4 separate regions of the Homo sapiens genome follow, and regions 1, 2 and 3 are each linked to region 4. The links come from fine-mapping of genetic effects on gene expression. A gene starts in region 4. Each other region holds a variant in brackets. All regions are shown on one strand. Distances are between the middles of the regions.

Evidence for each region. PIP is the estimated chance that this variant, and not a neighbour inherited with it, causes the effect.
Region 1: its variant is the best candidate, but not a certain one, in a credible set for the expression of CRYL1 in visceral fat (GTEx, PIP 0.85).
Region 2: its variant is the best candidate, but not a certain one, in a credible set for the expression of CRYL1 in whole blood (TOPMed, PIP 0.78).
Region 3: its variant is the best candidate, but not a certain one, in a credible set for the expression of CRYL1 in whole blood (INTERVAL, PIP 0.86).

The regions. Positions count from the first base shown.
Region 1 is chr13:20,813,483-20,819,523 of GRCh38, reverse strand. All of the region lies in intron 9 of XPO4 (exportin 4), which reads left to right. Among named protein-coding and RNA genes, the nearest start is that of EEF1AKMT1, 43 kb to the right of the region's middle. The variant T/C (reference allele first, on the strand shown) is at 3,348.
Region 2 is chr13:20,481,291-20,488,728 of GRCh38, reverse strand. The region is part of intron 3 of CRYL1 (crystallin lambda 1); the gene reads left to right. Among named protein-coding and RNA genes, the nearest start is that of CRYL1, 41 kb to the left of the region's middle. The variant A/G (reference allele first, on the strand shown) is at 2,821.
Region 3 is chr13:20,590,894-20,599,101 of GRCh38, reverse strand. It overlaps IFT88 (intraflagellar transport 88), which reads right to left. Exons shown (of 26, transcript NM_006531.5): 5 at 8,082-8,135; 6 at 7,421-7,484; 7 at 6,698-6,767; 8 at 2,862-2,952; 9 at 1,983-2,087; 10 at 349-451. Among named protein-coding and RNA genes, the nearest start is that of IFT88, 28 kb to the right of the region's middle. The variant C/T (reference allele first, on the strand shown) is at 4,138.
Region 4 is chr13:20,521,888-20,528,227 of GRCh38, reverse strand. CRYL1 (crystallin lambda 1) reads left to right here and starts at 2,371. Exons shown (of 8, transcript NM_015974.3): 1 at 2,371-2,474. The coding sequence starts at 2,434. RefSeq lists an enhancer at 1,856-1,965 and a silencer at 2,146-2,695.

The sequences.
Region 1 (6,041 bases), 290 kb before region 4:
CACGCCCGGCTAATTTTTGTATTTTTAGTAGAGACGGGGTTTCACCATGTTGGCCAGGCTGGTCTCAAACTCCTGACCTCGCAGTCCACCCACCCCAGCCTCCCAAAGTGCTAGGATTACAGGTGTGAGCCACCGCGCCTGGCCAAGACATGATCTTTTAAGTAAAATTTGAAAAATTGAGGCATATTAAAGATATGAGTTTGGGAGTTAACATGGGATGAAAAGATGATGAACTTTTGAGGGAGACTGCACAGTTACAGGCCAGGCAGTCATGAAGAGCAAGAGTTCAAGCAAGCTGCTTCACTTTTTTTTGGAGCATGTTAGCTTATTGGTAAAGTCAGGGTATGAATTCCTTCTACTGCTTTATGACGTGGATTAACTGCATGAAAAGTACCTGTATAGGCCGGGCTCAGTGGCTCACGCCTGTAATCCCAGTACTTTGGGAGACTGAGGCAGGCGGATTGCCTGAGGTCAGGAGTTCGAGACCAGCCTGCCAAACATGGCAAAACCCCTTCTCTACTTAAAAATATAAAAAATTAGCCGGGCATGGTGGCGGGCGCCTGTAATCCCAGCTACTTGGGAGGCTGAAGCAGGAGGATCTCTTGAACCCGAGAGGCGGAGGTTGCAGTGACCCAAGATCACACCACTGCACTCCAGCCTGGGTGACAAGAACGAAACTCCATCTCAACAAAAAAACAAAGGGGAGGGGGAGGGGGACGTGTATAGTGTACAATAATTTATTACAAGCAATAACATGTAGAATAATTTTTTAAAATGAGCCTTTAAAATAATAGCTTTTATTGAAAACCTGTGTGCACTCTTACCACATAAGAACAACTGTTGAGTTTTGTTTGGTGCAAACTAATTATAATTCTAATTTTTTAAAATTATTTTTTAAATGATTTTTATAATTGTAATTTTGTGAAATATTGAAAGCTTCTTTTTCCAGTAGGAAAACAGGTTCCACATGTAAGACTTTGTTTTACTGTGAGAATACTTTTTTCAGAGCTGTGTTTGTTTAGGAATATATACAGATTATCATCTTTTTTAATAGCAATTCATGTCTTTGATGGTGGTAACGTTGTGTAGCAAGGGAAGAAGAGCATCTTCATAGGAAGAAGCATTCTTGATACCAGTGTGTGTTTTTGAAACCCATGTCATAAAGCCACCTTGCTGGGTGGCTTTAGCATGTGAGTGAAGAGACATATTTATGAGTACTCTGACTTGCAGTTAACTGAGAGTCTGTGTTCACAAAGAGCAATTCTGGTATTCAGCCAAGTTTCTCTGTGGCTGCAGAAGTTTCTTGATATTATTTGAGACTTTTTGGAGATAAGAATTTTTTCATTATACCCAGAAATCAAATTATTATCTATTGCTGAACTGAAGAGGTAAGAATGAATGTGGAGATGAAAAAGTATTGCCTTAAAGATTAAAATCCTGCTGGGCTTGGTGGCTCACGGCCGTACCTTGGGAAGCTGAGGTAGGCAGATCACCTGAGGTCGGGTGAGGAGACCAGCCTGGCCAACACATCGAAGCTCCGTCTCTACTAAAAATACAAAAATTAGCCAGGCATGGTGGCACACTCCTGTAATCCCAGCTACTGAGGAGGCTGAGACAGGAGAATTACTTGAACCCGGGAGGCAGAGGTTGCAGTGAGCTGAGATCATGCCACTGCACTCCAGCCTGGGTAATACAGCAAGGCTTTGTCTCAAAAAAAGATTAAAATTCTATCAATAATTGTTCATATTAATACAACAGCTGTTTTATAAAAGATTTATAATAGTAGATGCATTTGAATTGTTTCAGTGAAATTCAAGGAGAATATGACTAGAACTGTATACTCTAGTTTGTTTCTTGGTTTCTTTTATAATTAACCATTTTGAGTTCAGCCAAGTAGGTGAAGCTGTGCAGTATGTTGCTACAGGAACAGAGCAGCCTTCATAGCATTGAGGTATTTTGTATATGCATTTTGATGTATGTGTTGTGTATAAGGGCAATCGTGGTAAATAACAATTTATAAAGGAAGAACCTTACATCTAGTTTTAGTATATTTGTAGCCTAATCTCAAGACCAGCAGGACAAGGTAGTAAAGAAAAAGGTACTTGATAAAGTTTTTAGGAAGTTGATTATAGAATGTAATGCAATAAAATAAATTTGCAATTTGTCAAGTGAGTGAGTGTATTTAGAGGTCAGCATTCTTGATTCAGAATTTAATTTCTCTGGCTTGTTGGGTAATTACTTTGTAGTGAGGTTATGTGACAAAAAGGAAGCCATAAATTGAAGCCAAATTACAGATTGAGAAGTGGGGAGCATAAATTTTGGGATATCTCAGTGATAAGAGGGAAAACAATACTTATTCTCTGGATGGTTGTGTCCGTACAGTGTAACTGTGTAGTCTACCTTGCACCTTCACCCATGAAAGGATGGATTGTTTGAAGATCCTTGCCAACATCCCCACCAAACGGTTCTTGTAGCTATAAAAGAATAAACTGATGATACTGGAGAGAGCAAGCTGGCTGTCCAGCGCCCCCCACCCATCAAGCACATTCATTTCCTCTGCTTAAAAGATAGAATTAAATCCATGAGTATTTTTTAAAGCTTGCACATTAAAAGTATACTTTTTAGAAATAATAACAATAGTTTTAGCTCTACCAGGATATTTGGAAGAAAACTAGTTACTATTTTACCTTAAATACAGATTCGTATTAAAAGAAGTGTTTTAAGAATTGTTTTAATGTTTTAATTCTAATTGGATGATAACCATGTAATATTTCATGACTTGTATGAGTCAGCTCTGATTGTTTAAATCTGCTTTACCAATCCTAGTGCAGAACCAGTGTTAAGTTTCACAGAATTCTTGCACCTTTAGTGCAGTGGATTTAGAATAAAGCTTACTTACTGTTATAACTATTGTTCCATATCATATTTAAGTGATCTGTCTGTAAGATTTTTCTAACAGCTGCAATACTTGTCTACTAAATCCATTTCTCTTGGGGGATTCCAGAAACCAGGAATACTGTCAGCTGCATAGGTATTCTGAAGTTAAATTAATTCTGTATTTTAAGAACTAGCTAGAAAAAATAAAAATAACTAGACGTGGATTTATTTTTCATTTGACATTCAAAGACTTCTAAATTCCTACATTTTTAAGTGGAGAGTTCATGAAGTTTTTTTTGTGACATTTGTGTCACTATATTGTTCCCATATTTGCCTTAAATGATACTTCGCTAGGAAAGAATCTACATACCAATAGCAGATGAATAACAGCATAAACTAATAGTATAGCTCTTTCAGTCTTTAATCGTTCATATGTCCTTCTTAATGTTTTACACTGTGCAGCACAAATA[T/C]TATTTGTGATTTGTTGTTAGACGTGGGGATTGTGCTGATGCCTGTAAATTTTAAAGTTATTGTGAAATGTTTCATTCATATAAAGTACTAGTTTTATGTTATAAAAATATAAAGAATAATGAAATGAACGATTATGTATCAACCACGCAGATTAAGAAATAGTATAGTATATTGATGGAGCCTTTTTCTGTTGTTTTTTAACCTGTGGTTTTTTCCTTCTCCTGTTATTGCATGCAAGTGTTTGGTACATTACTTATTTCTGCCAAGTGAGTCTATAAGCAGATGCTGCTGGTGAACTTCCCAGCCAGTGTTTTGGGCACTTTTTTGCAGCTTCTACAATCTCTGATAGTTGAAGCTGTTTTCACTTCCAAACTGTTGTAAAGAATAATATAAAAGGAACTTTTTGAAGGATATTCTGTAGACATAAGATTTTCTGTGAAAATGAATTGCCCATATTCATCTCACTGCATTTTTTGTCTGTGAATCACATATCTAACACGTTATTTATGTTTACATATGAAGATAATCTTGATGATCAACAGAAAAAGCTTTCCAATTTCATTGAAAGGATTTGGAGTTGTCATGATGATTAGTTGCTGTTCACAGGAAAACAAACTAACTACCTTAGCATGAGATTTAGCTCATATTTTTACAGTACCTGATATTAGATTTATATAGATAAATATAAATATAGATAAAGACTTTTTATATTTTAGAGCAGTTCTGAGTCCACAGCAAAAATTGGGTGAAAATACAAACCCCCTCAAACATGCAGCCTCCCCACCCTCACCCATCAACATCCCACACGAGAGTGGTACATTGTTACAGCTGATGAAACGACATTGACACATCATCGCCATCCAGAGTCCATAGTGTACATAGGGTTCACTCTTGGCATTGTACATTCTATGGGTTTGGACCAGTGTGTGATGTCCATCATTAAGGTATCATACAGAGTAGTTTCACTGTGCTGAAAATCCTCTGTGTTCTGCCTATTTATCCTTCCCTGCCCCTCACAACCTCTGGCAACCACTGATCTTTCGCCTGTCTCCATAGTTTTGCCTTTTCTAGAATGTCGTGTAGTTGGAATCGTGTAGTGTTGTTAGATTTTAATCTCTGAAATTCAATTTGATGTCAAAAAGGGGACAGATTTCATATATTGAAAGTTTTCTTTTCAAAGCTTCATTTGACAGCATTTTCATAAATAAAAGTAACCACTATTTTGGAATTATGTATTCAACATAATTACCAAAACGTAAAAGATTTTTTTCTATGACTAAAGGGTTGCAAATTTATTGCTCTATATACTTCCAAGGTAATTATGGGCATTGAGAGATAAGTGCTGATATCATAATTTGATTACCTTCTCCACCCTGCATTTCCAGATGGAGTAAAGTGGGGTCAAGTAGTCTCGTAAGCTCTAAGCCCCTCTCCAAAGCCTCTCTGGCAGCAGGCCTGACAATACCAAGGGCATGAGCACATAGTGTCTAGCTTGGTCTCCTTAGTCATCTCTGTGCACGTGCTGCTGCCTTGGCTGCTGGGTTTTGGCCAGAGTGGCCATGGAGCAGGGCCAGGGTATTATGAAAAAGCGCTAGGTTAGGTTTCAGTTTTCTGTGATTAGACTGAAAGATTTAGTTGCCAATTGTCAACAACCATATTTCTCACACTTTGCTCGATGAGTTATATTATCTCCAAAAGAAACCAGAAGGCTGTTTAGAAGTCCATAGTCTTACTGTAAATTGCCATCCAATGAGTTGAGGCTCTTGCAGTCTACCTCTGATCTTCTGTTCTAATATCAGAGTGTTAATAGGAGGGATTATTGAAAACTTTTTTTAATAATAGAAAGGCATATAAGACTTTTACTTTTTAGTTATACTTTTATGTATATGAATAATTAAACCACGATAACATGTGTTAGATATGTACCTAAAAAACAACCAAGATAGGTCTTAGAAAATATCCTGCTTTTTTTTTTTTTTTTTTGGAGACTGGGTGAGTCAGAGGATGCTATTCCTAAATTCCTCTTGTGATATGTTACCAGTCTGTTTATTTTGGCAAGATAAACTGTTAAGACTTAACAAATGATGGCTGTAAAGCACATGCTTTGTTAAGTATATAAACAGGCCACAGATGTTTCTATGGAAAGAAAGTATCTTATTCATCTCCATATTCCAGTGCCTGGCTCTTAGCGTTCAATAGATTTTTTTTTTTTTTTTTTGAGACAGCGTCTTGCTCTGTCACCCAAGCTGAAGTGCAGTGGCGTAATATTGGCTCACAGCAACTTCTGCCTCCCGGGTTTAAGCGATTCTTCTGCCTCAGTCTCCTGAGTAGGTGGAACTACAGGCATGTTCCACCACGCCTGGCTAATTTTTGTATTTTTAGTAGAGACGGAGTTTCGCCATGTTGGCCAGGCTAGTCTTGAACTCCTGATTTCAGGTGATCCACCTATTTCAGCCTTCCAAAGTGCTGGGATTACAGGCATGAGCCACCATGCCTGACTGAGAGCTCTCCTAAAGTATAAACCTAGGAGTGGAATTTTTTGATCAGAGAGTATGTAAATGTTCACTTTTAGAAGATAGTAGTGTCAAATTTTTCCGAAAGTGATTGGACCAGTGTATTACGTGTATGTGAGTTCTCAATGATCCATGTTCTCACCAACATTTACTGCCAAACTAGCAGGCATAAAATATGAT
Region 2 (7,438 bases), 40 kb after region 4:
TTCAAAGGCTGCACTTACTGCTATAAGGTTTATGCAAATTTACCTAAAGCTAAAAGAGTCATTATTCCCAGTATCTTTCCTTGATATTTTGTGTTCTGAGATTTGCACATTTCACGTCGTTACTCTGTTGATATTCTAGCTGAGAATTTGGAAGCAAACCGAAAAGGCTGTGTGTGTTCTCTGGTCATTTCCTGCTCTAAGATTCGGGTCAAATACAGAAGATGGAGATTTTAGGTCTCTATGACTCTAAAATTTCTTAAAATTGTTAAATTCTCAATTTGCTAAAAATTCATTAAACAAATGTGTGTCACAACAGAACACAAGGAGAGGACTGTTTTTCAACTTCTTATCTCTTTCTAATATATTATCCTCTATCTCTTGATATGGTGAAGTTTGTATGAAGTTGAAGGGACTTTAAAGAGACCTGAGGGCTCCTAATGAGTTCCCAGTGCCACCTGTTTCTACCCGTAGTTGCAGGTGCTATAAGAGGAGTTGCTTCTGAAGAGCACAGATGTTCTCCAGGCCTGGTCTTGGCAGAGTTGCTTCTGAAGAGCACAGATGCTCTCCAGGCCTGGTCTTGGCAGAGAAGCTTCTTTCACATGAATTTAGTTTTATTTTTTATTTTTTTGAGACAGAGTCACTCTGTTGGCCCAGGCTGGAGTGCAGTGGTGTGATCTCGGCTCATTGCAGCCTCCACTTCCTGGATTCAAGCGATTCTCCTGTCTCAGCCTGTGGAGTGGCTGGGATTACAAGTGTGCACCACCACACCCAGCTAATTTTTGCAGTTTTAGTAGAGACAGGGTTTCACCATGTTAGCCAGGCTGGTCTCAAACTCCTGACCTCAAGTGATCCGCTGGCCTTGGCCTCTCGAAGTGCTGGGATTACAGGCGTGAGCCACGGTAAACTGCATGAGTTAAGTTTTTTTTGCTTTTTGTTTTTTGTTTTTTTTTGAGATAGAGTCTCGCTCTGTCACCCAGGCTGGAGTTCAGTAGTGTGATCTTGGCTCATTGCAACCTCCGCCTCCTGGGTTCAAGCGATTCTTGAGCCTCAGCCTCCCAAGTAGCTTGGATTATAGGCATAAACCACTGTTCCCAGCCGTGAGTTTAGTTTTTAAGGAAAGTATTTAGTTATATAATGTGATTGAAATATTAATAAGTGATCTATTATTATAATATTTCTACTTTCACATTTCACAGAATGCTTTTGTTCAAACTCTGGGCTGATATCTCCAACTTCAGCATGTTTGTCTTCATTACAATCACTTTTTGAGTCTCTCTGAACAGAGTTCCCAGACCATGTTACCTTTGCCTCTTGGAGATGTTTGCTATGCAGAGCTTTTTGAACCCATCTACAATGCTGGCACTGCAAATTTTATCCCCAGCCTCAAAGACTAATTCTCAAACATTTAGATGTTTTTTCCTTTTGTAATAATACACTTGTGATTCCATAGCATGGCAACTTGCTGTGCTTTTTTTTTTCTTTTAAAGAATCTTTCTATAGCTACTTTATAAATTTCCTAGCAGTAACAATTGTAAAGTCATCCCCTAGGAATAATTCATCTATCCATGTTAAATTTCTTTGTCTCCCCATCCCATTTTTTTGATAGTTTATCATATGATTTCTATAAACATCCAAAACTACCCTAACTGAATTAGTTCTGGTTAATGTGTCTCCCTCAAAGAGTATATTGTTTTTTATAAAGTGGTGAACCCTCCATAATATGAGAACATTATAATAGACTTGGGTAATAAGGCAAGTTTTTCTGTTAAAGAGTAATTTGGGGGGAATATGTGAATTTAGAAGGCATGTAAAGCACTTACATAGTACTTGGCACACAGAAAATGCTCAGGAAATGGTAATTATTTTATAATGTGGCCATTTATAACAATTTTGGTAATAAAGAATGACATGGGGCAGTATATGGCGTTCTGTACATGGTTGGCACTAGTGAAAACTGCTCTTTAACTACAGTCTATCTTTATTTTATAGATTAAATGAGTGTATTTACAAGGCATGACATGTTGAGCCATATCTATTATGTAGAACACAGAGCCAAGCCGGATGAGGAGAGGAAACTAGAGAAAGATGATGTAAACTAGTAGGTTTAATTCCTATGAGAGTTTATATTCTTCAGAAATTGTTGTACCTCCAGTACCAGAGAAAGGAGTGGGTAGGAATAGTTCTGACCGGGAGGCTTCGGGAAGGTTTAATGCAGGTAGGATTAGAGCTTGTCTTGACTTTTGACAAGTGGATTTTGGGGTGGGGGTGGGAGGATTGTGTGGGAGGAAGAGATGAATGAGATGAGAAGTCCCTTTGAGGATGTTTCTAAGGCCACGTTACAGACCCATTGGAAAGGTAGGAAAGGCTGGTCCAAGGTGGAAACCAAGTCGCCATGCTACGAATGCCAACCTGAAGAATTACTTAGGTGAATTGAGTAATACACAGTGCTTAGAGGAGTACACGAAGAGAAGCACCATTTATGTGTTTCTTTAAAGAAATAAAGATGAAGGCTGGGTGTGGTGGCTCACGCCTGTAATCCCAGCACTCTTGGGAGGCTGAGGGTGGCGGATTGCTCGAGCTCAGGAGTTCAAGACCAGCCTGGCCAATATGGTGAGACCTCATCTCTACTGAAAATACAAAAACTTAGCCGGGTGTGGTGGCATGTGCCTGTGGTCCCAACTACTTGGGAGGCTGAGGTGGGAGGATTTCCTGAGTCTGGGAGGTGGAGGTTGCAGTGGGCCGAGATCAGGCCACTGCACTCCAGCCTGGGCAACTGGAGTAAGACTCCATCTCAAAAAACAAACAAACAAACAAAATATT[A/G]TGAGACCTGAAGAAAAAATAATTATAAAAAAAATAAAGAACTAAAGGGTTTGGATTTCAATCTAAGTCCTGATTAGAATCCTGCAAGGAAGGTATTTAGTAGGAGAATGAAATGAATCAGAAGGAAAGATGAGTAAGAAAAAAGAATCAGCAGTTCATTTTTGCCAGTTAACTGATTTTCTTGGGCATGTTTACACATTTCTTTTCTTTTCTTTTCTTTTCTATCTTTCTTTTTTCTTTGAGATGGAGTCTGGCTCTGTTGTCCAGGCTGGAGTGCAGTGGCGTGATCTCAGCTCCCTGCAACCTCCACCTCCTGGGCTCAAGGGATTCTCATGCCTCAGCCTCCTGAGTAGCTGGGATTACAGGCATGTGCCACCACACATGGCTAATTTTTTGTGTACATTTTTTAATAGAGATGGGGTTTCACCATGTTGGCCCGGCTGCTCTCTAACTCCTGACCTCAAGTGATCCACCTGCCTCCACCTCCCAAAGTCCTGGGATTACAGGCATGAACCATTGCGCCCAGCCTACACATTTCTTTATATGATGTAAAGCAAATTTAATCCTCTGAATTTTAAAACTAGTGCATAGGCTGGGCGTGGTGGTCCACACCTGTAATCCCAGCACTTTGGGAGGCCAATGTGGGCAGACTGCCTGAGCTCAGTAGTTCAAGACCAGCTTGGGCAACATGGTGAAACCCCATCTCTACTAAAAATACAAAACATTAGCCAGGCGTGGTGGTGTATGCCTGTAATTCCAGCTACTTGAGAGGCTGAGGCATGAGAATCACTTGAACCCAGGAGGTAAAGGTTGCAGTGAGCCGAGATGGAGCCACTGCACTCCAGCCTGGGCGACAGAGTGAGACCTTGTCTCAACAACAACAACAACAACAACAAAACCTAGTGCATATTAGTGTCTCAGGTTTACCAAACAAACAAGTAAATGAAACCCCCAGAGTGAAACCTACCTAATGCTGCCCCACATGTTTGTTAAAGTACATTAGTGTTTCTAACACAATGTAATGTTAAACATGTATCTTACCTAATTAAACATCTCTGTGTTGTAAAGAAAGTTTAGGACAATCCTGTTTAGGTTCATTATTCCAAAAATACTGAAGATTTTTGTGTATTTATATGTTTCCACTTCTCCTGTTTATTTTCTCTCTTTCTAATACATTTGAGATTATACTGTAAATAGAATTTTGCATCATGGTTTTTATTTAAAACTTAGAACATTTCCTGCTGTACGATGTGCTCGGGGCTGTATCAGAGAGAAGTGGCACAATCTTGGCTCACTGCAACCTCTGCCTCCTGGGTTCAAGCGATTATCGTGCCTCAGCCTCCCAATTAGCTGGGATTACATGCATCTGCCACTACACCCAGCTGATTTTTGTATTTTTAGTAGAAACAGGGTTTCACTATGTTGGCCAGGCTGGTCTCGAACTCCTGACCTCAAGTGAGACATATAATTTTTAGACTTAAAAAATTGTGATAGTCACCATTTGATGGCAAACCTGAAAGAAGCTTCCGTCTAAGAATTCCATTAAAGCTGAGGTTCCCAAAGTCCGCAGCCTCTGCCGGGCTGCAACCACTCATCTGCTGGCAACCACTCACCCGCCCTGTGGTGCTGCCTCATCTCAGGGTCCACAGACTTTTTGCCAGTGGCACCCTCTTAGCAGCTCTCACAGCTCCTTTTTCTGATTTATACAAGGGAAGGTTCTCAGTGTAGAAAAATCAATCTAGGCTACTTGGAGACAGTTTTCTTTTTTTAAAAAAAATTAATTGCTGTATTTTGGCCAGGCGCGGTGGCTCACGCCTGTAATCCCAGCACTTTGGGAGGCCAAGGCGGGCAGATCACGATGTCAGGAGATGGAGACCATCCTGGCTAACACGGTGAAATGCTGTCTCTACTAAAAATACAAAAAATTAGCCAGGTGTGGTGGTGGGCACCTGTAGTCCCAGCTACCCGGGAGGCTGAGGCAGGGGAATCACTTGAACCTGCGAGGTGGAGGTTGCAGTGAGCCAAGATCGCGCCACTGCACTCCAGCCTGGCGACAGAGCGAGAAGAGGGCTGGATGTGGTGGCTCATGCCTGCGATCCCAGAACATGGGGAGGCCACAGCGGGTGGATTACTTGAGCTCAGGAGTTCGAGACCAACCTGAGCAACATGGTGAAACCCCGTCTCTACCAAAAATACAAAAAATTAGCATGGCATGGTGGTGCATGCCTGTGGTCCCAGCTGCTTGGGAGGCTGAGGTGGGAGGATCACTTGAGCCCAGGAGGTGGAGGTTGCAGTAAGCTGAGATCCCGCCACTGTACTCCAGCCTGGGTGATAGAGTGAGACCCTGTCTCAAAAACAAACAGACAAACCAAAATAAAAGAAAGACTGTACAGAGCTCTTTTAGAATGATGATGTGGTACGTTACAGTCCAAGTGAGAAAGCTGACTTCATGTTGATGATATGGTCAGTCCAGATGGCGTGAACCCAGGAGGCGGAGCTTGCAGTGAGCCGAGATCGCACCACTGCCCTCCAGCCTGCGCGACAGAGTGAGACTCCGTCTTAAAAAAATAATAATAAATAAAAAATTACTTGCTGTATCTTAATTGTACATATTTGGGATTCATGTGTGATTGATTTGTGTGTTCAGTGTGTCATGGTAAAATCCCGGTGTATTAGGATATCCAGAACCTCACACGTTTATCTTTTATTGTGTTGGGAACACTATAAATCTTCTATTTTGAAATATATAACATTATTAACTCTAATTTCCCTACTGTATTATTGAATGCTAGACCTTGCTCCTTCTAGCGAACTGTATTTTGTACTCATTAACCAGCTTCTCTTCATCGCTCCTTCCCCTTCCTGGTAACTGCCGGCTGCGGGTGTCCACCATTCTACTCTCTACCTCCATGAGACCCACTGCTTTAGCTCCCCTACATGAGTGAGAACATGGGATCTTCGCCTTTCTGTGCCTGGCTTACTTCGCTTAATATAATGATCTCCAATGCCATCTATGTTGCTACAGTTTTCTTATAAAATATGTTGCTGTGGTTTTCTTATAAAAAGAAAATTATTACTATTTAGGGAATTGTTCACAAGCAGGAGGCAGAGTTTGAGGAGACGCGTGTGTGCGTGCGCACACACACGCGCGCACACACACACACACACAGACTGCTTGCCACAATGCTTCAACTAAAAATAATCCCACTGTCGGATCTGCCCAGCCCCAGGGGGCGAAGCCCAGTAATGGGAGTGTGGTTTTCCCCAGTGGATTGTTTTCTACCCAACCCTAGAGGGCGGGGAGCCTGGGTCAGGACGTTTCCTAATACTCTGCTGAAATCCGGGAGCACGCAAGAAAGAAACCTGAATTTCTAGAACTTAGTGCAATTTTGAAATCAAATCTTGCCTGGCAAGAAAACCTACTGTTCTGGAAAAATAAGTTTACTCTGAAAAGCTGGTCTCAAGCCTTGACTTTTAAAGCACATTAAAGCTCATTAGCCACTATGTCGAGGCCTTATCTAATCTCTGGAACTTAAAACCGGAGATCACAGTAGCTGGTGGGAGCCATGGGAATGATTTATAGAGTTACGAAGTTTAAATGGGGTTTCCTTACACAAAGTCAGAACAATCTGCAATAGCTGAAATCGAGAAGTTAAATGGATATTGTCTATGTAGATGATCAGAATTTGCATCTCAACTATATCTTTAAAATGGAGAGAATGCTAATCATTTTGAAAAGGACCTTCAGACACTGTCAGTAATTACAGGAAGTAGCGTTCTTTTGGAAATTTATTTGTTTTCTTAAAGGATTGTTGGACTTTCAGTCTTGGTTCACTGAGACTCAGAATATTTCTTCTTTTGGTAGAGATGGGTGTGGGGGTGGGGGGTTCAGGCAGCATTGGACACATGGGATGGCCAGCCCTGAGAATATTCGGGAATGTGCGAGGAAACTGGAGTTACACTTTTTCTGTTGTATGTGTTTTTTCTTTTTCCTTTCGAGATGGAGTCGCACCTTTGTCACCCAGGCTGGAGTGCAGTGGTGCGATCTTGATTCACTGCAACCTCTGCTTCCCGGGTTAAAGCAATTCTCCTACCTCAGCCTCCCAAGTAGCTGGGATTATAGGCGCCCACCACCATGCCGGGCTAAGTTTTGTATTTTTAGTAGAGACGGGGTTTCATCATGTTGGCCAGGCTGGTCTTGAACTCCTGACCTCAGGTGATCTGCCCGCTTCGGCCTCCCAAAGTGCTGGAATTACAGGAGTGAGCCACCACGCATGGCCATACGTGTTTTTTTCTTTAAAAACTGTAAAATCAGGTTTACAAAGATATAATTTCCATACAAGAAAATTCACTCGTTTCAGGGTTCAGTGCTATGTGTCTGACAGATGCGTACAGTCACGTATGAAATCAGCGTCACAGCTGGGGTTCAGAGCATAGAGCCTCTCCTTCCCTTTGCAGCTAATTTCCTCCCACCGTTCCCCAGGCCTTGCCCACCACTGATCTGTTCTTTGTCCCTATAGTTTTGCCTTCTCCAGAATGTTATGTAAAATGGAATCATACATGATGCAGCCTTTTGAGTTTGGTTTCTTTCACAGAGTAAAATGAATTTGACGTGGCT
Region 3 (8,208 bases), 70 kb before region 4:
AAACATTAATACTGCTACCAAAAAATTACACAATATAAATGCTAAATATAAACTATAATCTCTTGGGGATAAATTTATATAAGGAAAAGCACATTCTATGAGGATGTCATGGCTCATTCTACTTGTGATAACAGGATACTATTAGGCAATATACCTCATACTAACTATATTTCTTCATCTGTAAGGATTTTTATATAAATAGTATGTTTAAGCAGGATACCCCTATCATAAATACTGATTTGTTTAGAGCATAGATCATTTCATTTTAAGGAAGCATAAAATGAAGAGACATAAATTAACACTACGAAAGAATTACATCTATTGGAAAAACTGATTATGTACACTTACCTGCATTGCTAAACATCTTATTTTTGACTATAACTTGATAAGTGTTAAGTGCTTCGGCATACATTTCATTAACTGAATACTGACTGGCCAAATTGAAAAGAACCTAAGGAAGAAAATATTATAGAAAAGACACATAAGACCACTTTAGGCCCCTTTCACCTATAATCTTTCTAGAGATTAAAATCCTATAACAAAGTTAGCTACTTATATCAAGATACTCAGCCAATTATGAAATTAAGTAAACAAAAGAATTATCTTGCATTACAAATGAACATTAAGAAAAGAAGACCTGTCCTCTAAATTTCACCTTAATTTTCTATGTATTCTATTTAATTTAGTAGTATTTGCCATCTATTAATCTCTGGAGGACCTACAAAGAATAAATGTGTATCATTAATGCTGCTGGTGATCAAAGAAATAAGCAAGATCGTGAACTAAATATAAATTAAACGTGGAAATATCTTAAACCTTAAAGTCTATCAGAAGAATCTGTATAGTAAGCTCTATATACTAAATTACAATTTAAGTAATTAATTTATAGTAAATTATGTTCCTAAAGGTAAAAAATGATCATCATAAATTATCCCTGAAAGATTTCATGGAATCGTAGAGTATCAGCTATAAACAGTAAGCATCTAACACTTCAAAATTTCAAACGCCCTTTTTTTCCTATGTGTTTAGCATATGAAACCTTTACCCACTGAAAATACACCCTTTTAAACAGAAGTGCAAACATTATGGAGGTGTCTTTTCAGAATTAAATAAATGTTGCTAGAAATTAGAGGCATTAGTTTTTTTTCCCCACTACCCTCATAGAACATTATTTTATATGCCTAAAGTTCTTGAAAATCACTGACCGAAAAGTCTACATTACAATCTCATCAAAATAACCACCTTGATAGAGCATTAAAATTAGTGCTCTTCAAGAAATAGAGCCATTGCATGGTAGGTTTGCAGGTACTTACCAAGTTATCAAAAAAAAAATATATATATATATATTTTTTTTTTGAGACGGAGTCTCGCTCTGTCGCCCAGGCTCTGGAGTGTGGTGGCAAGATCTTGGCTCGCCGCAAGCTCCGCCTCCCGGGTTCACGCCATTCTCCTGCTCCAGCCTCCCAAGTAGCTGGGACTACAGGCGCCCGCCACCACACCCGGCTAATTTTTTGTATTTTTAGTAGAGATGGGGTTTCACCATGTTAGCCAGGATGGTCTCGATTTCCTGACCTTGTGATCTGCCCGCCTCGGCCTCCCAAAGTGCTGGGATTACAGGCGTGAGCCACGGCACCCGGCTACATATTTTTTAATAAATAGAGACGAGGTCTCACTATGTTGCCCAGGCTGGTCGCAAACTTCTGAGCTCACTCAGTAATCCTCCCACCTTGACCTCCCAAGGTGTTAGGATTACAGGCGTGAGTCACTGCACCCAGCCTAAAATAACTAGTTAAATAACTAAAGAAAAGAGCTCTTTGCACAAAACAAAGACAAGAGTGTTTTATGAACTAAAGATTATTATTAATCTAATTGTGAGCACCTGAAGACCAGTAAGATTTTAAAAATAAAAGAAAAAAGACTCTGGAACCCATTAACCCTAGTCAAAATTTTATTTAAAAATTGTGTTATATTTCAATACTTACTGAGTAAGTTAAATCCAAATTGATATTTTCTGGAGTTGTAACTTGTTCTCGCTGTCTCACCAGGACTCTCTCTTTTCTTCCTGCATCTTTTGCCTTTTCTAAGGCCTGAAATCAGATTTATACCTTGTAACTTCCTTTGAGTGTTCATCAACTTTTATGCATTTGAGAAATATCTACATGAAGGTTGGATGAATTCATTTTCTATCCTCAGATTCCTCAAGACACCCCTGTGTGCTCTTACCAGAAACTTCCCTTGGAAAGGGACTTTTTGTTTTTTAGAATGACAAAAAAAGCCCCAGTTCTATGAGTAGTAAAAGCAGCTTTTTAAAGTGAACATTTCTTTCTAATGGTATTCATTAATCCAATAACTCACAGAAATTATATTTATATGATATGACAATCAAAGTAACATGAACAAAGCAAATTAAAAGTAAAGATTGATATTTAAAAAGCCAAGTTAGATTCCCAAAAAGCAAACTAATTTTTTAGTTTACTTAGGAAAAAATATTTGATAGTAGAGAGACTTCAAGAAGAAAACAGCCCTTAGTACTGTGTGTGGCTCATGGTAGCTACACCTTTCAGCAGCATATTGCTATCTAATCCAATAGTCCACCAGGCTGCCAAGTTAAGTATACAAATACATTAGAATTTTTTTCCCTACTGAAAAGGCCAATGTCAAAAATTACAAAACCAGCCAATTATTCTGACATTCAAATTTATGAAACTGAGTTACAATTCCTGGTTCTCAAAATAATTGCTTCTTATCCTAAGACCAGTCAACGGCAAACAAAAATATTTGTCTATACATACGGTGTATGTATAAAAGCAGACATACATCTATAAATGCTTCATAATTTTGAATCTTGTTTATGAACTTACCAATTTTAAGTCTCCACAACTATTGGCAATACAGCTTTCTTCTACCAACTCATTTACTTCCTTCTCTAATTGCTTTATTTTTTCCTCTGGGCTATTAAAGACAAAAGCAGGTACAATTTAAATCATTCAACCTCTAAAAATCTATACTAAAATTTATTTTATTTTATTTTATTTTATTTTATTTTACAGACAAGGTCTTACTTGGTTGCCCAGGACGGAGTGCAGTGGCACAATCATAGCTCACTGCAGCCTGTAGTCTTGACTCCTGGGCTCAGGTCATCTCCTCCCACCTCAGCCTCTCAAGTAGCTAGGACTACAGGTGCATGCCACCATACATGAATAATTTTGTTTTTGTTTTTTGTAGTGACAGAGTCTCCTCATCTTGCCCAGGGAGGCTGGTCTTAAACTCCAGGCCTCAAGCGATCCTCCCTCCTCAGCCTCCCAAAGTGCTGGGATTACAGGTGTGAGCCACAACACCCAGCCTAATTTACTTTCAACATTGAACAATGTGCATTTAAACTTCAAGAATAGTTATAGATAAGACAAATGTATACATGGTATTAAAGAGCAAATGTAGTACTGTTTTTAACAACTACATCATGTAATTATTCATAATAGTAAAATAATAACAACAGTCAAGGTAGGTAACATGGCCAGGCGTGGTGGCTCCTGCCTGTAATCCCAGCACTTTGGGAGGCTGAGGCAGGTAGATCACTTGAGGTCAGGAGTTTGAGACCAGCATGGCCAACATGGTGAAACCCTGCCTCTACTAAAAATACAAAAATTAGCCAGGTGTTGGGGCAGGCACCTATAATCCCAGCTACTTGGGAGGCTGAGGCAGGAGAATATTGCTTGAACCTGGGAGACAGAGGTTGCAGTGAGTGATATTGCGCCACTGCACTCCATACTCCAGCCTGGGTGACAGAGCAAGACTCTGCCTCAAAAAAATAAAAAAAAATAAAAATAAACGACAGGTTCTTGCTATGTTGCCCAGGCTAGAGTGCAGTGGCTATTTACAGGCACAATCATAATGCACTACGGCTTGAACTCTTGGGCTTAAGCGATCTTTCTGCCTCAGCCTCCTGAGTAGTTGACACTATAGGCGTGCACCACCATGCCTGGCCATAGAGAAAGTTTCTAATGAGGTGAAGAAGTTTAAAAATCCTGGCTCTATTAATAGCAAATCAAGTATTCCCAAATCAGTTACCTTTCAAAATAACAGTAATGTTGTTTTGCTACCACTTTCTTTTGGCAAAATACAACAATACTCTGAATA[C/T]ACATCAATGCCTAAATAAAATTTTACTACTGCTATATCAGAATAGATAGTAGTTCTCTTAATTCTCTACAAATGGATTTTATAAAAGTATATAGAAATAAATTGAGCAGCATAACTTTTTCTATAAAATTATATTCTTTGAGGAAACCTGGGACTAAGACTACAAAGTTTATTAGTTTATAAAGATCTGTAAAATTCTAACTGAGCAGTAAGCATAATAGATGGTAGTTTTATGAAGGTTACATGAAGTATAGAATTCTATTTTCTAGTTGTCTGAAACACTTGAATGTATGTCTTAAATGTTGCTTACAGATTTTATTATTAAATTCAAAATATCAACATAGAATTTTAAACTTAAAAATCTGTAAGAGAACTTTATGAAGACACTGAAAGTAACTTACCCTGTCCCTATCAAATGCAAAAAAAATGCAATCTATATTCAGGCACTGTTGGCTACCTACCCACACAGAGCCTGCCACCCGCCCTTCTTCTTTGCATGCAGAATCTAAGCAAGTCAAGAGAATCTCATTCTCTTTGCCAAGTGTTTGGTTCAGCCACGAGCATTTGATGCATTCCACACTGAGAAATGAAGGCATATCTGCTTCAGGTACAGGGCTGCTAGAAAGATCTTCTTGGCTTTTTAAGAGACCTAAGACTAGGAACATTCTGCCTCTAGACTATATCAGTTACATGGAGATTTTGAACTCTCAACACTCTCTTGGCATCATAATGATCGGCAGGCGCTTGGGGAAAGCCAAGGGAAACAAAGAGAAGCTGGACCAGGGATGATGTTACTGAGCAGTTAAATTAACCATCCCCAGAACTTCCCTTCCTCCAGACTTCCTATTATGTGAGATAATAAATTTTCTTGTTAATTATGTATATGTCTTTTTTTTTTTTTTAAGTCTTTCTTTGAGACAGGGTCTCGCTCTGTCACCCAGGCTGTGGTGCAGTGGTATGATTACAGCTCACTGCAGCTACCACCTCCTGGGCTCAAGCCATCCTCCCACCTCAGCCTTCTGAGTAGCTGGAGCTACAGGTGTGTGCCACCATACCCAGCTAATTTTTTAATTTTTTTGTAGAGACGGGGTCTCGCTATGTTGCCCAGGCTAGTCTTGAACTCCTGGGCTCAAGTGATCCTCTCACCTTGGCCTCCCAAAAGGCTGAGATTATAGGCATGAGCCACCACGCCCGGCCTGTGTCCTTACTTTTTTTTAAACATGTTTTCTGTTATTAGCAGCCAAAAGGACCATGAATGACATAATATTTAAATAAAAAATGCTTTTATTAGCTAATGTGCTGTCATTAATTAAGATAAAAAATAACATGATTTTCTATAGAGGTTCCTTGCTAGTCAAAAATGGAAATTATGTAATTTACACGAAAGCCTAAATACTGGGTTTAAGAATTACAATTTAAATAAAAAAAAGAAACAAAAAAAAAGAATTACAATTTAAAAACATATATTCTATAGAAGCAAAACAGTATAGTGACTAATTCCAGTTCTAGTTCCAGAGCCCAAGCTCTGGAACTAGAAAAACTGGGTTTGAATCTAAGCCTTGTCATTTACTAGCCTTAGAAAGTTAAGATAGCTGGGCTTCAGCTCCCCTCTTTATAAACTAGTGAGAATAATAGCTCTGTTTTCATAGGGAAAGTACTTGGAAAAGTGCCTGGCACACAGCAAGGACTCAGTTAATGTTAGCTTTTATTACTATTTGTAAAATGTATACATCAAGGTACTTGGATACCAGCAGATGTATATAATTAAATGTATACCATAGCTTTTTGGCTACTGTCTAGCCACTAGCACTAAATTAAGTTTGTTCTATAAAAAATTAAATTTCTCAATAATATGACACATTAATTTCATATGTGTTCTCTTAATTTTTTCCCTTGAAATGTCCTCTCAAGATAATCATATCTTACAACATTTACAACCCCATTTGGCTGTCAGGAGACTCAATACTGGCCCTGATAAAAAATTAGACCATATCTTCAAGTCATATAATATCACAATAAAATTGCACAGAATACATATGGCTATTCTTAATTTTGTTAGTTCTGGCAACTAGGGATGATTTTTTGTTTACTACTCTGCTGACACAAACTTTTTAAAGATTAAGAATTATGTAATTCTTATGGAATTCACATAATTATGTAATTCTTATGGAAGTCACATAATTATGTAATTATGTGAGCTGGTGTGGTGGCTCACGCCTGTAATGCCAACACTTTGGGAGGCTGAGGTCGGCAGATCATTTGAGATTGGGAGTTCGAGACCAGCCTAGCCAGCATGGCAAAACCCCATCTCTACCAAAAATACAAAAATTATCTGGATGTAGTCGCAGGCACCTGTAATCCCAGCTACTCAGGAGGCTAAGACAGAAGAATCGCTTGAACCTGGGAGATGAAGGTTGCAGTGAGCCAAGATCGCATCACTGCACTCCAGCCTGGGCAACAGAGTGAGATATCATCTCAAAAAAAAAAATTGTGTATTTGGAAAATAAAAATTTAAAATATGCAGCAACAACAACAAACAACAACATAAGGACTTACATACCTATCTTTTTTCTTGGCTTCCAAAGGGGAAGCAGGGCCCCTTGACTGACTAAGGGGGTCAAATGCAGAGCCTGAGACACAATTCAAGAGTTAATATTCAATTTGTAACTCAGCAAAATCGAAGAATATATGAAAATATAAAACCTCGCATAAGCTATTTCATTTACCTCTTTATTAAATGGTTTCAATTATCTATTTATTAAATGGAGATAACATTGTGTCTACATAAACATTTCATATACTGGGAAATTGGTAAGATTTTTAACACACATAAAGCTATGTAAATAATACGTGTGTTAAACTTAAAAACAAAAATAAGATATTCTCAGCATTTACTTTCTCTTCCACAGTGATCTATCTCTATTATCAACTCTAAATTATCAGTCACATGTCTTATAACCTGCTATTGGCTTTTTAATTTTCCTTATTGGCATACCAAACATTAATTTTTGTTATAATTTTATTTTTAAATTATCATTTAACTTTTTACATATTATTTCAATGCATTTTGACAAATTACACCATGGTTTAATTACCACCCCAACAGATATGTAGAAGGTTTTCATCATCCTTTTCCTTTCTTAATGGTACCTAAAATATCAGTGCATCTTATAATCAATGGCATTGTTAGATTTTATTTAAAATGACAGTAATATTTATATCACAAAATGATAAAAGATTAAAAGATCCAAAAAAGATTATTAGTAGAGACAGTGTAACAAACCTCTCAAAGCTGCTTTGGTAAAACCAGCTGCTCTCACTGCTGTCATGGGTCTAGTAACTCCATCCTTTAAAGAGAATGGGAATCATTTATTCTTAAATAAGATCTATCTCCTATGTACAGTTCTGCACATTACACACACCTTAATATAGCCCTATTTAAAAAAATGCTGATTTTCAATCACTATACGTTTACTCCTTACTTCTACCTCCTCATGTATCAATCATGTCCTCTCTCACCTTTACAATTTCAATTCTTTGATGTAATTGGGCTATAGTTTTAAAAAAAATTAATCAGCTTATTAGCCAGCTACTCTCTTACTTTTGGTTGGTCTCTTACATGCCTATGAGAGAAACCACAGAAATTGTTGTAAATGGTAACAGGAAAAATGGGCCCCAGAATACATCATATAAGCAATTATCAGTTCTATGTCCACACCCCAATGGGAATTCATTTGATACCTGAGTAAATAAATCTAAAGAGACTTCGCCTTCAAAGATTTACAACAGTGTAGACTTTAGCCCACAATTTAAAGAATCTGGGTCACTATATAAGTAATATCTTCTTTAACATTTTAAAATAATATAATAAAGTAAAAAAACTTTGGTAGTAAATTCCAAGTCACAAGAAAGGCACAAAATGAACATGCATCCAATAGAGATACCTGAATAGCCCCTGTCATTGGTCTTCCTATTGATGATGCCAGAGATGTCTTGGACTAGTAAACAGAAAAGTTAAGTTAAAAAGATTCCTAAAAATATCTGCCTTAAATGTTTAAACCAAGTTATAGA
Region 4 (6,340 bases):
GCTGAAATAAAGAAATTTGTCTAACTTCTTGTCCACTTGAATTTCTGTACAACAGATCTCTAGAATTGGAACTGCTAAGCCAAAGGGTACATACATTCTAAATTTTGTGTATGTCAGAAACTGCAAGGGTCTGAGATTTTCACTAAATTGCAACAGAGGTTCTGCACTTGGATGCTGACAGAAGTCACGAGACTCCTGGATTAAAAATAAATTATCTTATTACAGTAAAAGCAATAGCCAGAGTGACACCATATTTATATGGGTTCTTGGATCCTTAATTCCCACAGGGTTACATAGAGGGCCAGATGACTCCTGTGTTTGCAACGAGCAAGGGCCCAGCACTTTTTGCTTTCTTTTTTTTTTTGAGATGATGTCTCGCTCTGTCGCCCAGGCTGGAGTGCAGTGGCGTGATCTTGGTTCACTGCAAGCTCTGCCTCCTGGGTTCACACCATTCTCCTGCCTCAGCCTCCCGAGTAGCTGGGACTACAGGCGCCTGCCACCACGCCTGGCTAATTTTTAGTAGAGACGGAGTTTCACCGTGTTAGCCAGGATGGTCTCGATCTCCTGACCTTGTGATCCGTCCGCCTCGGCCTTCCAAAGTGCTGGGATTACAGGCGTGAGCCACCGCGTCCAGCCACTTTTGCTTTCTTTTGAGACAAAGTCTTGTTCTGTTAGCCAGGCTGGAGTAGAGTGGCAAAATCATAGCTCACTGCAGCCTTGAACTCCAGGGCTCAAGAGATCCTCCTGAGTAGCTGGGACTACAGGAATGCACCACCACACCTGGCTAATTTAAATAAATCTGTATTTTTTTTGTTTGGTACCAGAAGGATTAAAGTTATAAATATATGTACACATAAATAAATAAATATATAAACACACACACACACACACACACACACACATATATATACACACACACTAGAGATGCGGGGGGGGGGGTTCTCACTATCTCGCACAGGCTGGTCTCAAACTCCTGGCTTCAAGCAATCCTCCTGCCTCAGCCTACTGAGTAGCTGAGACTACAGGCGGCACCAGCCTGGATAAGTTTTTTAATTTTTTGGTAGAGACAGGGGTCTCGCTTTGTTGCCCAGGCTGGTCTTGAACTCCTGGCCTCAAGCTATTATTTACTACTCAGCTTCCCAAAGCGCTGGGATTTCAGGCATGACTTTGCAGGGAGCAGCAAACAAGCCAGTCTGCTGCCCCCATAGCCTCCGGTAGTGAGCAGTCACAGGATGCTCACTCCCTGGGTGCCTTGATTATTATATTGGCTGCCTGTGTAACTGACTACAGAAACTGCTCCATCAGAAGATGGAAGCTTTGGAGCCTTGTATTCTCAGCCAGAGCAGGCGCGGTTGCTCAGGCTAGCGGCTGTCTCAACAATGTACTGTAACATTCCCTCCAAAAAGTCCTCAACATTTAAGCTTGCCTTCTACTGTGTGTAAGTTGCATGTCCGAAACACTCCATTACGGATATGGGAATATAATCAATCCATGTGACTTAGCCAATCTGATGAGTGAGAGATGACTTATCTTCCTTGTGTTACTTTTCATTTCTCTTGAGGTTGAATACTTTACAAATATTTATCGATAATTTGTGAAACTGTTCTTTAAAAAACAAAACAAAACAAAAAAACCTAACCCCTCCCCTGAGATTTCTCTTTCCACGTTCCTGACTCAGGGGAAACAAAGGAAGACTTCCTTTTATCATCTCAGTGTTGGCTGCGGTTCCAGCTTGAGTACTGTCTCCTCTGTCTAATGACTGTGTCATTTCCCGTTCAGCTTGTGCTGTGTGGACGCACACCACTGTCAGGCAATGTGTGATGCCCCTTCCTCTTGGTCTGTTCCGGGCTCCAAGAAGGCCAGGAGTCAGGGCACGAGGGCATTTCCTTTTTCTGATACATAAACCGAGTGCAGAGTGTGCTCCGTGGAGGAATTCAGACGTGTCCTTCCGTAGCGCAGATGAACGCATCAGGTGTTCTCTTTCACTGCTGTCGCAGTCCCTGCGCCCAGTTCGCAGTTGGCGGCAGCGGCAGGCGTCTTTCAGAGACGAATTAGCAAAGGGGACATTCTCTGACAGTTTCTCTAGGGTGCTTTAGCGCTAGAGCCCGTGCCAGCCTGCCCGTGTCCCCTCCTATAGACACGGACTTCACGGTGAATGCTGACAGTCACAAGCGCGTGGTCTTCCCGCTTTCCACCCCCCGACGTGCCCCCGCGCTGGTCCTGCCCCTGCCCACGAGGGTCGGCGCGCCGTGTGTCTCCCGGTGTCTCGGGCCCGCGGCGCGCACCCCACTCAGGGACCAAGCGGCCCTCCCCGCCCTCCCGGTCCGCGCGCGCAGCCAATGGGCGCGGGACCCGCCCTCCCCGGAGCCCAGAGCTCGCAGCTCCGCCGGCGCCTGGTCCCAGCGCCCGCGGCGCCGCGTCCCCGGCCCAACCATGGCGTCCTCCGCGGCCGGCTGCGTGGTGATCGTTGGCAGGTAAAGGGCTCCGAGCCGCGCTGCTGCCCCTGGAGCCCGGGGAGACGCCGGGGACGTGGTGCCCTCGCGTGGGGCCCTCGGGGTGGGCGCCGGGTCGCTGTCCCCGCCCCGGCCTCCGGTCCTCCGAAGCCCTGCGCCCTGCGGCCCCTACGGCGCTGGCGGGCTCGGGGAGAGGCGCGGCTGGAGGGGCTTGGCAGGTGGAGGCGCCCCGCGGAGTTGGGTCTGCTTCCCGGGAGCCAGCGTTGCAGGAGGTTCCGAGGTTGACCGCCCAGGCCGCGGGGCCTGCGGTTCCTGGACTCTGTTGAATGTCGCCGCGTCTGCCCGCAGGTCCACATAGAAGTGCCAGGCACCGTGTTGAATGAAACGAATTCTGGCTGCGATCCTGCGACGACTGTGTTCTCATCCCCATTTTACGAATGAGAATACTGAGACTAAGCAGTTTACCTAAGGTCACAGGCGTTTAGTGACGGAGACAGGACTAGCCCAGCAGGGAGGGTGCCAGCGCAGTCCTGTCGGCGACGATGTCGCTGGAGGCCGCAGCAGGTGTTAGGCGAACATACACGCAGTCCTAATTCCTGGGCGAGGCGATGTTTCCAGAGGGGAGGTGGGGGCCGATGGAGCCCAGAGAGTTTGCTAAGTGTGTCCATTTAACAGCTTAAATTCTGCCCAAACTGATTTTTAGTGTGTGCTTCCCCCACCCCGCCCCCCACCCCTACGGTTACAATCCTTGCTATTTTTGTTTTTTAAAAAGGGGCATTTGTATGTACCTTTCTTTGGCCAGCTGTTAGCAGCAATCTATAAACATGTTAATACTTGCTATTGATAGTTAAAAGCACCTTTTTGGTGACTGCTGTTGAGGTGTTGGCCTGCCCCCGACTCCGCCCCCCATCAGTGTACAACCCGGTGTGGAGACCACTTCCAATGTCAGGGTGTTTCCTTCCCACTGAAGGAAGGCATCAGATTCCTTGTTGTCAGCTTTCTTTTCTCCAGAGCAGTGGAGTTAACTGTGCCTTTGTTCTTTCTGGCCCATGAGTGCCCGTGGTTGAATAGTGAAGGCATATTAAAAAGTGCACTTTGGGCCGCGCGCGGTGGCTCACCCCTGTAATCCCAGCACGTTGGGAGGCCGAGGCAGGCGGATCATCTGAGGTCGGGAGTTCGAGACCAGCCTGACCAATATGGAGAAACTCCGTCTCTACTAAAAATACAAAATTAGCCGGGCGTAGTGGCACATGCCTGTAGTCCCAGCTACTCGGGAGGCTGAGGCAGGAGAATCCTTTGAACCCGGGAGGCGGAGGTTGCGGTGAGCCGAGATGGTGCCATTGCACTCCAGTCTGGGCAATAAGAGCGAAACTCCGTCTGAAAAAAAAAAAGTGCACTTTGTACCAGTGGTGGTAGTTACCTCTGTCTTGCATTTTATTAATAGTTACCAGAGTTTATGTGTGTGTGTATATATATACACTCACACATATATATACACACACAGTTTTTACACGCATGCGTGCGCGCACGCGCACACACACACAATTTTAATAGGATAGGGTCTCGCTCTGTCGCCCAGGCTGGAGTGCAGTGGCACTATCATGGTGGATCTCCACCTTCCGGGCTCAAGCCATCCTCCCACAGCAGGCATGTGTCACCATACCCGGCTGATTTTTAAAATTTTTAGGTAGAGATGGGGTCTCACCATCTTGCCCTGGTTGGTCTTGAACTCCTGGGTGCAAGCGCTTTGGCCTCCCAAAGTGTTGGGGTTACAGTTGTGAGCCACCTTGCTTGGCCTTGTATAGGTCCATCATGCCTTGGAGTAGTGTTATGCATGCACCTAATACATGTGAAGTAAAGTTTTAGTTGATTGTGCAGTTATCTGGCTGTGGGTGGCTCAGTCTACTGAGGAGGAGCTTCAGTTAACAGTTTACTTCTGATTCCTTGAGGGATGTTGATAAGGAATTAGAGAAAGGCTTCCAAACTTTAAGGACCACATAATTCTCTGGGGCCTCTGCTTGTTTCTTTGTTTTCTGGTGTGAAAATCTTGTCTTTCCCCCACCCTCAGCACTTCAGCACACACCCAGCTCTGCCTCTGGGACAGTGCTGGTTTCTTCCCTTCCTCTTTACCACCCTTCTTTCTCGTCCCTCTATTTCTTTCCTGGCCCCACAGGTGATTCCAAGGAACACCCACTTAACAAATAGGGCTTGGGGAATGTCAATTAATTTGCCAAAACCTGGTTCAGTTTCATTCTTAGGTTTCAACAGACCAAAATATACATATTTCAATTTCAGGAGCATATTGTGTTTTCAGCTTTCCTTATCAGTTTATAGATTTCATCTTGAAAGTACCTGCTAGGAATACAGTCCCACTTAATTCTTTTCCGCTGATCTTTTTCCAAAGTTCACTCTTCCTTAGGGCCACTTAGCTGTCCTATAAACATCCAGGGCAAGTCCCTTCAGAATGGGGAGGGCTTGAAAGAGGATGAGAGAAACTCTTTTGGGCCTAGGGCTGCAGGAAAATCTGGTAGTGATAACTTTTAAAAATGGGAGTAGAAGTCCAGGCATGGTGGCTCATGCCTGTAATCTCAGCACTTTGGGAGGCCTAGGAGGGCAGATCACCTGAGGTCAGGGGTTCGAGACCAGTCTGGCCAACATGGCGAGATCCCGTCTCTACTAAAAATACAAAAATTAGCCGGGCGTGGTGGTGCATGCCTGTAATCCCAGCTACTCAGGAGGCTGAGTCAGGAGAATCGCTTGAACTCAGGAGGCGGAGGTTTCAGTGAGCCAAGATCACACCACTGCACTCCAGCTGGGGGATAGAGTGAGACTCCATCTCAAAAAAAAAAAAAAAAAAAAAAAAGTAGAAATGGGTATCATGAAGATAAATTTGCATTGGAGTAGTGTTCTAAGGCTTTCATTTTGTTAGCCTTACCTTTATAAAACACTGTGTTTCTAAATCGCTAAAATATGAGTTCTGTATTTGTATACACACTGCAAGATTCAGCTTGTAGCCCTTGAGCTTGTTTAGAATAGGAACACAAAATGTTCCTGGTGCAGGGCATGCCCTTTCTCCTGTCCTGCTTTTTAGGGGGCACACTCTTTCAGGATCAAGCTCAGGGACTGTCTCCTCCAGGAAAAGTTCTGCTTCTGGGCCTTTCCCCTAAGGATAGAAACTGTATTGTTGCCATTTGTATCCACCATGCGTGGTCCCAATAGACAGATAGTTGAGCGTTTGTAACAGAGACTGCTTATTTTTTAACTGATGTGCCCTATGAAGGGCTTGGTAGGACGTTGTTTTATATCAAGAAAAACATCCCATAAACTAGAAAGGCAAGAAAGAAAGGTATCCTATAAACTACAGTCTCCTTCATTTTTTTTAATTCCAAAATTTTGTTTGGGGTGATTGTACTTTTTTTTTTTGAGACGGATTCTTGCTCTGTCAGGCTCAGGCTGAAGTGCAGTGGCACCATCTCAGCTCACTGCAACCTCTGCCTTCTGGATTCAAGCAATTCTCCTGCCTCAGCCTCCCAAGTAGTTGGGACTACAGGCACGAACCACCATTGCTGGCTAATTTTCGTATTTTTAGTAGAGACAGGGTTTCTCCATGTTGCCCAGGCTGGTCTCGAACTCCTGGCCTCAACTGATCCGCCCACCCTAGCCTCCCAAAGTGCTGAGATTACAGGCGTGAGCCACTACACCTGGCCTGTGCATTTTTTATAAGAAACTTTCTGAGGCATGAATTTTCTTTGAAGTGCTATTCTAGGTATTTTCCTGCTAATTTTTGTACACATACACAGCAAACCCTAGGATGCCCTCCTTGCCTTTTGAGTCAGCTTAGACACTAAATGTGCCCTTCGCAGGAGTTACTTAATAGCTCTTTCTGG